3 linked regions of the Homo sapiens genome follow. The protein of the gene in region 1 purifies or fractionates together with the protein of each later gene. This does not show direct contact. Each region holds a gene or a part of one and is shown in the gene's direction. Other genes may lie near its edges.

The links.
Region 2: the proteins of ZNF556 (region 1) and MTHFR purify together in Homo sapiens (affinity purification with mass spectrometry; one large-scale study listed by BioGRID and IntAct). This does not show direct contact.
Region 3: the proteins of ZNF556 (region 1) and ASAH1 purify together in Homo sapiens (affinity purification with mass spectrometry; one large-scale study listed by BioGRID and IntAct). This does not show direct contact.

Annotation. Positions count from the first base shown.
Region 1 is NC_000019.10:2,880,514-2,883,978, forward strand, and holds the end of ZNF556 (zinc finger protein 556), read left to right. Parts: 3' UTR 1-2,932; downstream 2,933-3,465. UniProt on the Homo sapiens protein: May be involved in transcriptional regulation.
Region 2 is NC_000001.11:11,795,864-11,799,522, reverse strand, and holds part of MTHFR (methylenetetrahydrofolate reductase (NADPH)), read left to right. Parts: intron 1-3,123; coding exon 3,124-3,317; intron 3,318-3,659. UniProt on the Homo sapiens protein: Catalyzes the conversion of 5,10-methylenetetrahydrofolate to 5-methyltetrahydrofolate, a cosubstrate for homocysteine remethylation to methionine. Represents a key regulatory connection between the folate and methionine cycles.
Region 3 is NC_000008.11:18,055,396-18,057,862, reverse strand, and holds the end of ASAH1 (acid ceramidase isoform a preproprotein), read left to right. Parts: intron 1-239; coding exon 240-329; 3' UTR 330-1,871; downstream 1,872-2,467. UniProt on the Homo sapiens protein: Lysosomal ceramidase that hydrolyzes sphingolipid ceramides into sphingosine and free fatty acids at acidic pH.

The DNA of each region.
Region 1 (3,465 bases):
ATCCCAGCACTTTGGGGAGGCCAAGGCGGGCAGATCATGAGGTCAAGAGATCGAGACCATCCTGGCTAACACGGTGAAACCCCATCTCTACTAAAAATACAAAATATTAGTGGGGTGTGCTGGTAGGTGCCTGTAGTCCCAGCTACTCGGGAGGCTGAGGAAGGAGAATGGCTTGAACCTGGGAGGCGGAGCTTGCCAAGATTGCGACACTGCACTCCAGCCTGGGTGACAGAGCGAGACTCCGTCTCAAAAAAAAGAATTATACTTCTGAATTAATATTACCAGATGCATTCAGATTTAGACATTTTCTTTCTAGTACATTTGTTTCCTATACTGTTATAATTTTGTCTAAGAAATTCTTTTTTTTTTTTTTGAGACAGATTCTCGCTCTGTTACCCAGGCTGGAGTGCAGTGCCGTGATCTTGGCTCACTGCAACCCCCCCGCCAAGGTTCAAGTGATTCTCCTACCTCAGCCTCCTGAAGAGCTGGGATTACAGGCACCCGCCACCACACCCGGCTAATTTTTGTATTTTTAGTAGAGACGGGGTTTCACTATGCTGGCCAGGCTGGTCTCGATCTCCTGACCTTGTGATCTGCCCACCTCGGCCTCCCAAAGTGCTGGGGTTACAGGCGTGAGCCACCGCGCCCAGCCTAATAAATTCTTGTTTATTCATAATGACAAAAACTTACGTAACGGTTTTATAAATTTAAGTATTAAATAAGTCTAGCAAAAGACATAAAAAGATAACTAATAAAACAAGTTTAAACTTTATTGGAGCCCAGTAGCAATGGCTCACGCCTGTAATCCCAGGACCCACCGAGGCGGGTGGATCACCTGATGTGAGGAGTTCGAGACCACGCTGGCCAACATGGTGAACATGGTGAAACCTTGTCTCTACTAAAAATACAAAAAATTGGCCAGGCGTGGTGGCAGGCGCCTGTAATCCCAGCTACTTGGGAGGCTGAGGCAGGAGAATCGCTTGAACCCGGGAGGCAGAGGTTGCAGTGAGCCAAGATTGCGCCACTGCACTCCAGCCTGGGCGACAAGAGTAAGACTCCATCTCAAAAAAAAAAAAATTTTTTTTTTGGATAATATCAAGGCAGAATAAAGTATAGTATCAAACTTGACAAGGTAGATAATAGGGAATGCAGAATAAAGGATCGGGCTTCAGTAAGTGACAATCTCATCATGAATTCATTTATAGTTCCACCATGTAATATGTCTTAAATACTATTTCTTTTTTTTTAATACTATTTCAAGAACTGCTCATGAGTTAGGAAATAGTGAGCAGTAATACAGAAATAACGGCAGGACCAGGGGCAGTGGCTCACACTTGTAATTCCAAAGCTTCGGGAGGCTGAGGCAGGAGGATCACTTGAGCACAGGAGTTCAAGGCCAGTCTGGGCACATAGTGAGACACAGTCTCTATAAAAAGAAATTTTTAAAAGTATCTAGGCATGGTGATGTGCACTTGTAGAGCCAGCTACTCAGGAGGCTGAGGGTGGAGGATGGCTTGAGACCAAGAGGTCCAGGCTGCAATGAGTTATCTTGCCACTGTACTCCAGCCAGGGTGACAGAATGAGACCGTGTGTCAAATTAAAAAGAAAAAAAGAAACAATAATTATTTCCCTGGCCGGGCGCGGTGGCTCACGCCTGTAATCCCAGCACTTTGGGAGGCTGAGGCGGGTGGATCACGAGGTCAGGAGATCAAGACCATCCTGGCTAACCCGGTGAAACCCTGTCTCTAGTAAAAAATACAAAAAATTAGCTGGGCGTGGTGGCAGGTGCCTGTAGTCCCAGCTACTCGGGAGGCTGAGGCAGGAGAATGGCGTGAACCCAGGAGGCGGAACTTGCAGTGAGCAGAGATCGAACCACTACACTCCAGCCTGGGCGACTGAGTGGGACTCTGTCTCAAAAAAAAAAAGAGACAAAAGGTATATTTATGGTTCAGCCTCATTTCTGCAAATATTAAAAATTTTAGGGCATGATGTATACATTTTATATATATATATATATAGTGTGTGTGTGTGTGTGTGTGTGTGTGTGTGTGTGAATGTGTGTGACGGAGTTTTGCTCTGTTGCCAGGCTGGAGTGCAGTGGTGCGATCTCAGCTCACTGCAACCTCCACCTCCCAGGTTCAAGCGATTCTCCTGCCTCACCCTCCCAAGTGGCTGGGAATACAGGCGTGCCCCGCCACGCCCAGCTAATTTTTTGTATTTTTAGTACAGGTGGGGTTTCACCTTGTTGGCCAGGATGGTCTCGATCTCTTCACCTCGTGATCTGCCCGCCTTGGCCTCCCGCAGAGCTGGGATTACAGGCGTGAGCCACCGCACCAGGCCCATGTCATATGTTTTTATGAGTTTGGACATTGGCATCTGGGACCAGGTACTTCATCTGGATTTGAACCACAATGTGGGTGTTTGTTTTTAATACCTTTGTGAAATAATTTTAAATTGCCTTATATATTTGGCATTGTCACTTTGCTGCCCCTACACACTGATGGAAAAATTGTGTTCTGCAGAAAACTAGAGTTCCTCACAGGGTGAGGAAGAGTTATGGTCATCTGCACAGTTGTAGCCCGTTGCGAGTGTTTTCCCATGTGCACAGTGATATCTAGGCAAGTGTGCCATGATTTCCTGGTGAGGATAAAATCTATGGACGGTGAGAGAACTAGTCAAGGAATAACTGAAGTGAGCTGCAGACAGGATTATCATTTTGAGTAACATCCCAATGTATTTGTCATCCTTTAATTAATTTTTATTTTTTTAATTAAAAAATAATTTTTAAGTGTAAACCTTTAATGATCCACAAAGCCCAAAATGTCCATTTGATTTTCATAGGTATCGTTTCCATATGCTTAGACTTCCAGCAGCTATTAGAAGAGAAAAATATGTAACAGCTTTGTGTTTAATTAAAGGCAAATGAAATCCAGTCTGTGTCCATTTTCAATGTTAATAGTCTTGATAGCGGGCCGGGCGCAGTGGCTCACGCCTGTAATCCCAGCACTTTGGGAGGCTGAGGTGGGCAGATCACCGGAGGTCGGGAGTTCGAGACCAGCCTGACCAACATGGAGAAACGCTGTCTCTACTAAAAATACAAAAATTAGCTGGGCATGGTGGTGCGTGCCTGTAATCCCAGCTACTTGGGAGGTTGAGGCAGGAGAATTGCTTGAACCCGGGAGGCGGAGGTTGCAGCGAGCCGAGATGGCGTCACTGCACTCCAGCCTGGGCAACAAAAGCGAAACTCCACCTCAAAAAAAAAATAGTCTTGATAGCACTGCAAAGACTTCGTGTCATTTCACAATCACAGTTAGCTTATTTGATCACTCCTTCCCTACATTCCTCTCATTGTACAAATTGGTACCAGATGGAAAGTGCTGACTGTGAGATGTCCAGGTTCTTGACGCATTGAACAAAGAATTGAACAAAACACACAAAGCAATGACAGCGCAGATTTATTTAAAT
Region 2 (3,659 bases), on another chromosome or scaffold:
GGCCCTCCCTCATTCCCTCTGGGGCCACAGGGTCCCCCATCTCCGCTTCCCACTGCACATCTGTGCTTCATCTGGGAGACCTGATACCCATGCTTTTCCACACACCTGGCCTGCTCCTGAGTGTGCAGAGTGTCAGTTCCAGCCAGTTCCCCAGGCTAATGGACAGGCCTCCGTTCCAAATTCCCAGGAAAGAGAATCACCATTGGCCACAGCCACAAGACCAGGTTCCCCCAACAGAAATGGGTGGGTTGGACTTCTCTCCCACCCTTGAAGCTGAAGGCTGGCATTGAGCCCTCAGCGTCTCAGACAGCGCTCAGGTATGGCAAGACAGTGTGCACCAGGGACAGGAAGTCCCGGGATTGGCACATTTTCTGGGATGACAGTTTTTTTGCCAATATTCTGGGAGAAATCCTACCATTTTTATATTAAACATGGCTATGTTATGGAGTAGCATCTAAAGTGATATGAACTAAAAAAAAAAGGCCAGGTGCGGTGGCTGAAGCCTATAATCCCAGCACTTTGGGAGGCCAAGGCGGGTGGATCATGAGATCAGGAGTTTGAGACCATCCTGTCCAACATAGTGAAACCCCGTCTCTACTAAAAATACAAAAATTAGCCGGGCATGGTGGCGCGTGCCTGTAGTCCCAGCTACTTGGTAGGCTGAGGCAGGAGAATCGCTTGAACCCAGGAGGCGGAGCTTGCAGTGAGCCGAGATCGCACCAATGCACTGTAGCCTGGGCAACAGAGCCAGACTCCGTCTCAAAAAAAACAAAACAAAAAACCCAAAAAACAAACCACGTGGCTTCAAGAAAATTACATGTTGTGAGTAACTTTGGCCTTGTCCCTAACCCCCGATGGACATGTCCATTCTGTCAACAGGGGTGTTTAGGTGCTAAGTCTGGGAAGCACTGATTAGGAGTCAGAGAACAGACATTTCCAACTGTTAAATTGTCATCGCTTGTATCAGCCATTATATAGTCAGTTACTGGGGGAATATGCACCCGTGATGGGCGTTAGGTGATAATGATTGGAAACTAGTGAAGCTGTGAGCTCACAGTTGCTGAATGGTTTCTTACTTTGCTTATCAAGTGGGTAATGAAGATGAGTGGATTAGAAAACACCAACCTGTTGGGCATGGTAGCTCATGCCTGTAATCCCAGAGCTTTGGGAGACTGAGGCAGGAGATCAAGACCAGCCTGGGCAACACAGTGAGACCGTGTCTCTACAAAAAATAAAAACATTTTAAAAAAGAAAGCCCTCAGCTGTTCATGATAGAAAAATAGAGTAAATAGCAAAATCTATACGTAATCAAATGCTAGATTTGTTCGGTGATATTTAGGTATTGTAGCTATACTTTTCAGCTATTAAAAAGCCTTGTTGTTTCTGAAATTCCTACTGGGAAAATAGCTTTGTTATTGCAAGTGTGAAGCCCCATTGCTTTATCCCCCACTCCCTTACCCCTTGAAACAATAGTTTTTATATTCATTTTTTGATGACTCTGGGTTTCTTAAGAACGGAACTGCCTTATCAGAGCAAAGCAGCTTGGCCTTCCGCCTGGCTCAGAGTCCTGCCCTGGGCTTGGGCTGATGAAACCAGCACTCCATGTAGTTTCATGAAGGCCTATGGTCATCCTGCTTGCCTGACCGAGCAAGGCGGCTAGTAAGTTTAGTCATTGAGGAAAGGGGTCAGAGAGTTCACAGAGCCAGTAAGGAGCCTATGGGACATCTGATCCCACCTCCTAAGCAATTCTGGAATCTTGTCTTCAGCATCCACTGCCCCTGTGTTTTCAGACTCCAGGAGCTCATTGTTTTGTGAGTGGCTTATAGTACTCTAGCCAGCTCTCTGAACCGGATGCTGGTTCTGCCATTAGAAACAACACAGAATATGACTAATAAAGAACTTCACTAGGGGGCTGGGTACAGTGGCTCATGCCTGTAATCTCAGCACTTTGGGAGGCCAAGGTGGGAGGATTGCTTGAGCCCAGAAGTTCCAGACAAACCTGGACAAGATAGCAAGACCCCATCTCTAAAAAATAAATAATTAATTAAAAAAATTTTTTTTAATTAGCCAGATGTGGTGGCTTGCATCTGTAGTCCAAGCTACTCAGGAGACTGAAGTGGGAGATCACTTGTGCCCGGGAGTTCAAGGCTACAGTGAGCCATGATTGTATCACTGCACTCTAGCCTGGGTGACAGAGCAAGACCCTGTCTCTGAAACAAAACAAAACAAACTCACCTATGGTGGATCCTTTTTCCCCAGGACAGACCTTTGGACATTTGAAAGGAGTTTCTGTATTCTTTTCATTCTTTTTTTTTTTTTTTTTTTTGAGACGGAGTTTCGCTCTCGTTGCCCAGGCTAGAGTGCAATGGTACGATCTCGGCTCACTGCAACCTCTGTCTCGTGGGTTCAAGCAATTTTCCTGACTCAGCCTCCTGAGTAGCTATTACAGGCATACACCACCACACCTGGCTAATTTTTGTATTTTTGGTAGAGACGGGGTTTTACCATGTTGGCCAGGCTGGTCTCGAACTCCTGACCTCAGGTCATCCTCCTGCCTTGGCCTCCCAAAGTGCTGGGATTACAGACATGAGCCACCGCACCCTGCCATCCATTATTTTCTTTGAAGAAAACATCACTTTCTTCAGTTCTTCCTTGTGTAACTTGGTTTTTAGCTTTTCACTATCTTGGACCCCTGAGTAATTTCAGTGTTACATTAAAAACAATGTTTAATCCGGTGCCTAGAGAAAAGTCAAGCTTACTACCCCAGATGCTGCCCAGCCAGTGCTAACTGTAGCATTTTCTCTTTTCTATGGCCACCAAGTGCAGGCCTGATTTGCTTGGCTGCTCAAGGCAGGACAGTGTGGGAGTTTGGAGCAATCCACCCCCACTCTTGGAACTGGGCTCTGAGCCACCTCCCCTGAGAGTCATCTCTGGGGTCAGAAGCATATCAGTCATGAGCCCAGCCACTCACTGTTTTAGTTCAGGCTGTGCTGTGCTGTTGGAAGGTGCAAGATCAGAGCCCCCAAAGCAGAGGACTCTCTCTGCCCAGTCCCTGTGGTCTCTTCATCCCTCGCCTTGAACAGGTGGAGGCCAGCCTCTCCTGACTGTCATCCCTATTGGCAGGTTACCCCAAAGGCCACCCCGAAGCAGGGAGCTTTGAGGCTGACCTGAAGCACTTGAAGGAGAAGGTGTCTGCGGGAGCCGATTTCATCATCACGCAGCTTTTCTTTGAGGCTGACACATTCTTCCGCTTTGTGAAGGCATGCACCGACATGGGCATCACTTGCCCCATCGTCCCCGGGATCTTTCCCATCCAGGTGAGGGGCCCAGGAGAGCCCATAAGCTCCCTCCACCCCACTCTCACCGCACCGTCCTCGCACAGGCTGGGGGCTCTGGGTGGAGTGCTGAGTTCGCTGAGTTCTTCCCAGATCTCCTCTCAGGTCCAGAACTTGCACAGCGTTGCTTGGCCACCCCATTTTGGTTACCTCTAATTTTCCCCCCAAAACCCAGCAACAGTGTCTGTTGAGGGGTTTGTTGTACTTTGGCCAACAAGCATCACCAAAAGGGATTCTAATTCTCATTACAAATCCTGCTTAAATCAGTGTTTCCCAAAGGTGGCTGTCATCAGAACCACTTGATAAGCTTTTTCAAAAAGTGGA
Region 3 (2,467 bases), on another chromosome or scaffold:
CAGTGATCCTGTTGAAGTTGTTTGCTTTAGTTATTTGGTGAGACTTTAGCTAATTTTATATGATTATACTATATTAATATAAATATATACATTATATAACATGCTTTGCATATATTAAGTTATATTATTTAATATTAAATAACTTCTAAAGCAAATTCTACAAGTATAGAAATGCTAATATATATCAGAACATCTCTGAATTGAAAACGTCCTTAAAGTAAAAATAACTTTTCTTTCAGCTGACCGTATACACAACCTTGATAGATGTTACCAAAGGTCAATTCGAAACTTACCTGCGGGACTGCCCTGACCCTTGTATAGGTTGGTGAGCACACGTCTGGCCTACAGAATGCGGCCTCTGAGACATGAAGACACCATCTCCATGTGACCGAACACTGCAGCTGTCTGACCTTCCAAAGACTAAGACTCGCGGCAGGTTCTCTTTGAGTCAATAGCTTGTCTTCGTCCATCTGTTGACAAATGACAGATCTTTTTTTTTTCCCCCTATCAGTTGATTTTTCTTATTTACAGATAACTTCTTTAGGGGAAGTAAAACAGTCATCTAGAATTCACTGAGTTTTGTTTCACTTTGACATTTGGGGATCTGGTGGGCAGTCGAACCATGGTGAACTCCACCTCCGTGGAATAAATGGAGATTCAGCGTGGGTGTTGAATCCAGCACGTCTGTGTGAGTAACGGGACAGTAAACACTCCACATTCTTCAGTTTTTCACTTCTACCTACATATTTGTATGTTTTTCTGTATAACAGCCTTTTCCTTCTGGTTCTAACTGCTGTTAAAATTAATATATCATTATCTTTGCTGTTATTGACAGCGATATAATTTTATTACATATGATTAGAGGGATGAGACAGACATTCACCTGTATATTTCTTTTAATGGGCACAAAATGGGCCCTTGCCTCTAAATAGCACTTTTTGGGGTTCAAGAAGTAATCAGTATGCAAAGCAATCTTTTATACAATAATTGAAGTGTTCCCTTTTTCATAATTACTCTACTTCCCAGTAACCCTAAGGAAGTTGCTAACTTAAAAAACTGCATCCCACGTTCTGTTAATTTAGTAAATAAACAAGTCAAAGACTTGTGGAAAATAGGAAGTGAACCCATATTTTAAATTCTCATAAGTAGCATTCATGTAATAAACAGGTTTTTAGTTTGTTCTTCAGATTGATAGGGAGTTTTAAAGAAATTTTAGTAGTTACTAAAATTATGTTACTGTATTTTTCAGAAATCAAACTGCTTATGAAAAGTACTAATAGAACTTGTTAACCTTTCTAACCTTCACGATTAACTGTGAAATGTACGTCATTTGTGCAAGACCGTTTGTCCACTTCATTTTGTATAATCACAGTTGTGTTCCTGACACTCAATAAACAGTCACTGGAAAGAGTGCCAGTCAGCAGTCATGCACGCTGATTGGGTGTGTACATCTGTGTTGGTTTGGAGGAGGGGGGTTATTATCAAGAAATACAAGCTGAACATCGTATCTGAATTAAATAACAAGGGTTATGTAAGTGGGTTATTAAATATGACTAAACGGTCACAATCTTACTCTTACATGACTGATACCACCTCTTAACCAGATACTATCAACCCAATTTGCAGGTGTTTAAAGGCAGTTTTTCCCCCAGATAGGTGGTGCTTCCACAAAACTTTAGTGATTCCAAGATTACTTTAGTGAAACGAGGAATTATAAGAGGATTTACATTAAAATAGGATTTAATTAATGAAAAAAAAACTTTACTCAGATTTTCTACCTCTTACATAAATGAAGTCAGGTCAACTTGATGTATTTTTTTGTTAATGTAATAACCTTTGATATGCCTGATAGTAAAGAGGTGAGATGCTAATTGTTTCAGACCGATTTCTCCGGAGTAAATCAAAGTTTACAAGAAATAACAGGTATTAAGATTTTAGGAAGTAATTGTTTAGTGGTAAAGCAGTTTTAAAATAGGATATACAGGATGAGCCTGTTTATATAACACTTTATATATGTACTTATGCATAACTAGATACACATCTAGAATATCAAAAGATGACTGGGAGGATATTAACCAAAATGCTGACTGTAGTTCCTACTGGATAATGGCAAGTGCTATTTTAATTTTGAGAGGACAAAACTTAGTAGCCATTGGACATTAATGAGACTCTATTTTTAGAAATACTATAAAAAAATAAGGTCCAGGTTGGATCCAAACCATGGGCTCCATCTAATTTCCCTGCCAAGTTTTCGGGAGTTTGATTGTGAATGGAAGGCTGAATCCTACCTGTATTCCTTCACACATCGAGCTCCTCAGTCACTCATCTTAATTAGAGCTCTTGCTTATCCATTTATGTACCAGGCCTTGTGATTGATAAGGTGCTTGACCTAGATTACCTCCTCAGCAAACCCCGGTATCACTTGTAATCACACTTGCCAGCCATGGAAGTAACTTGCTGAAAGTTG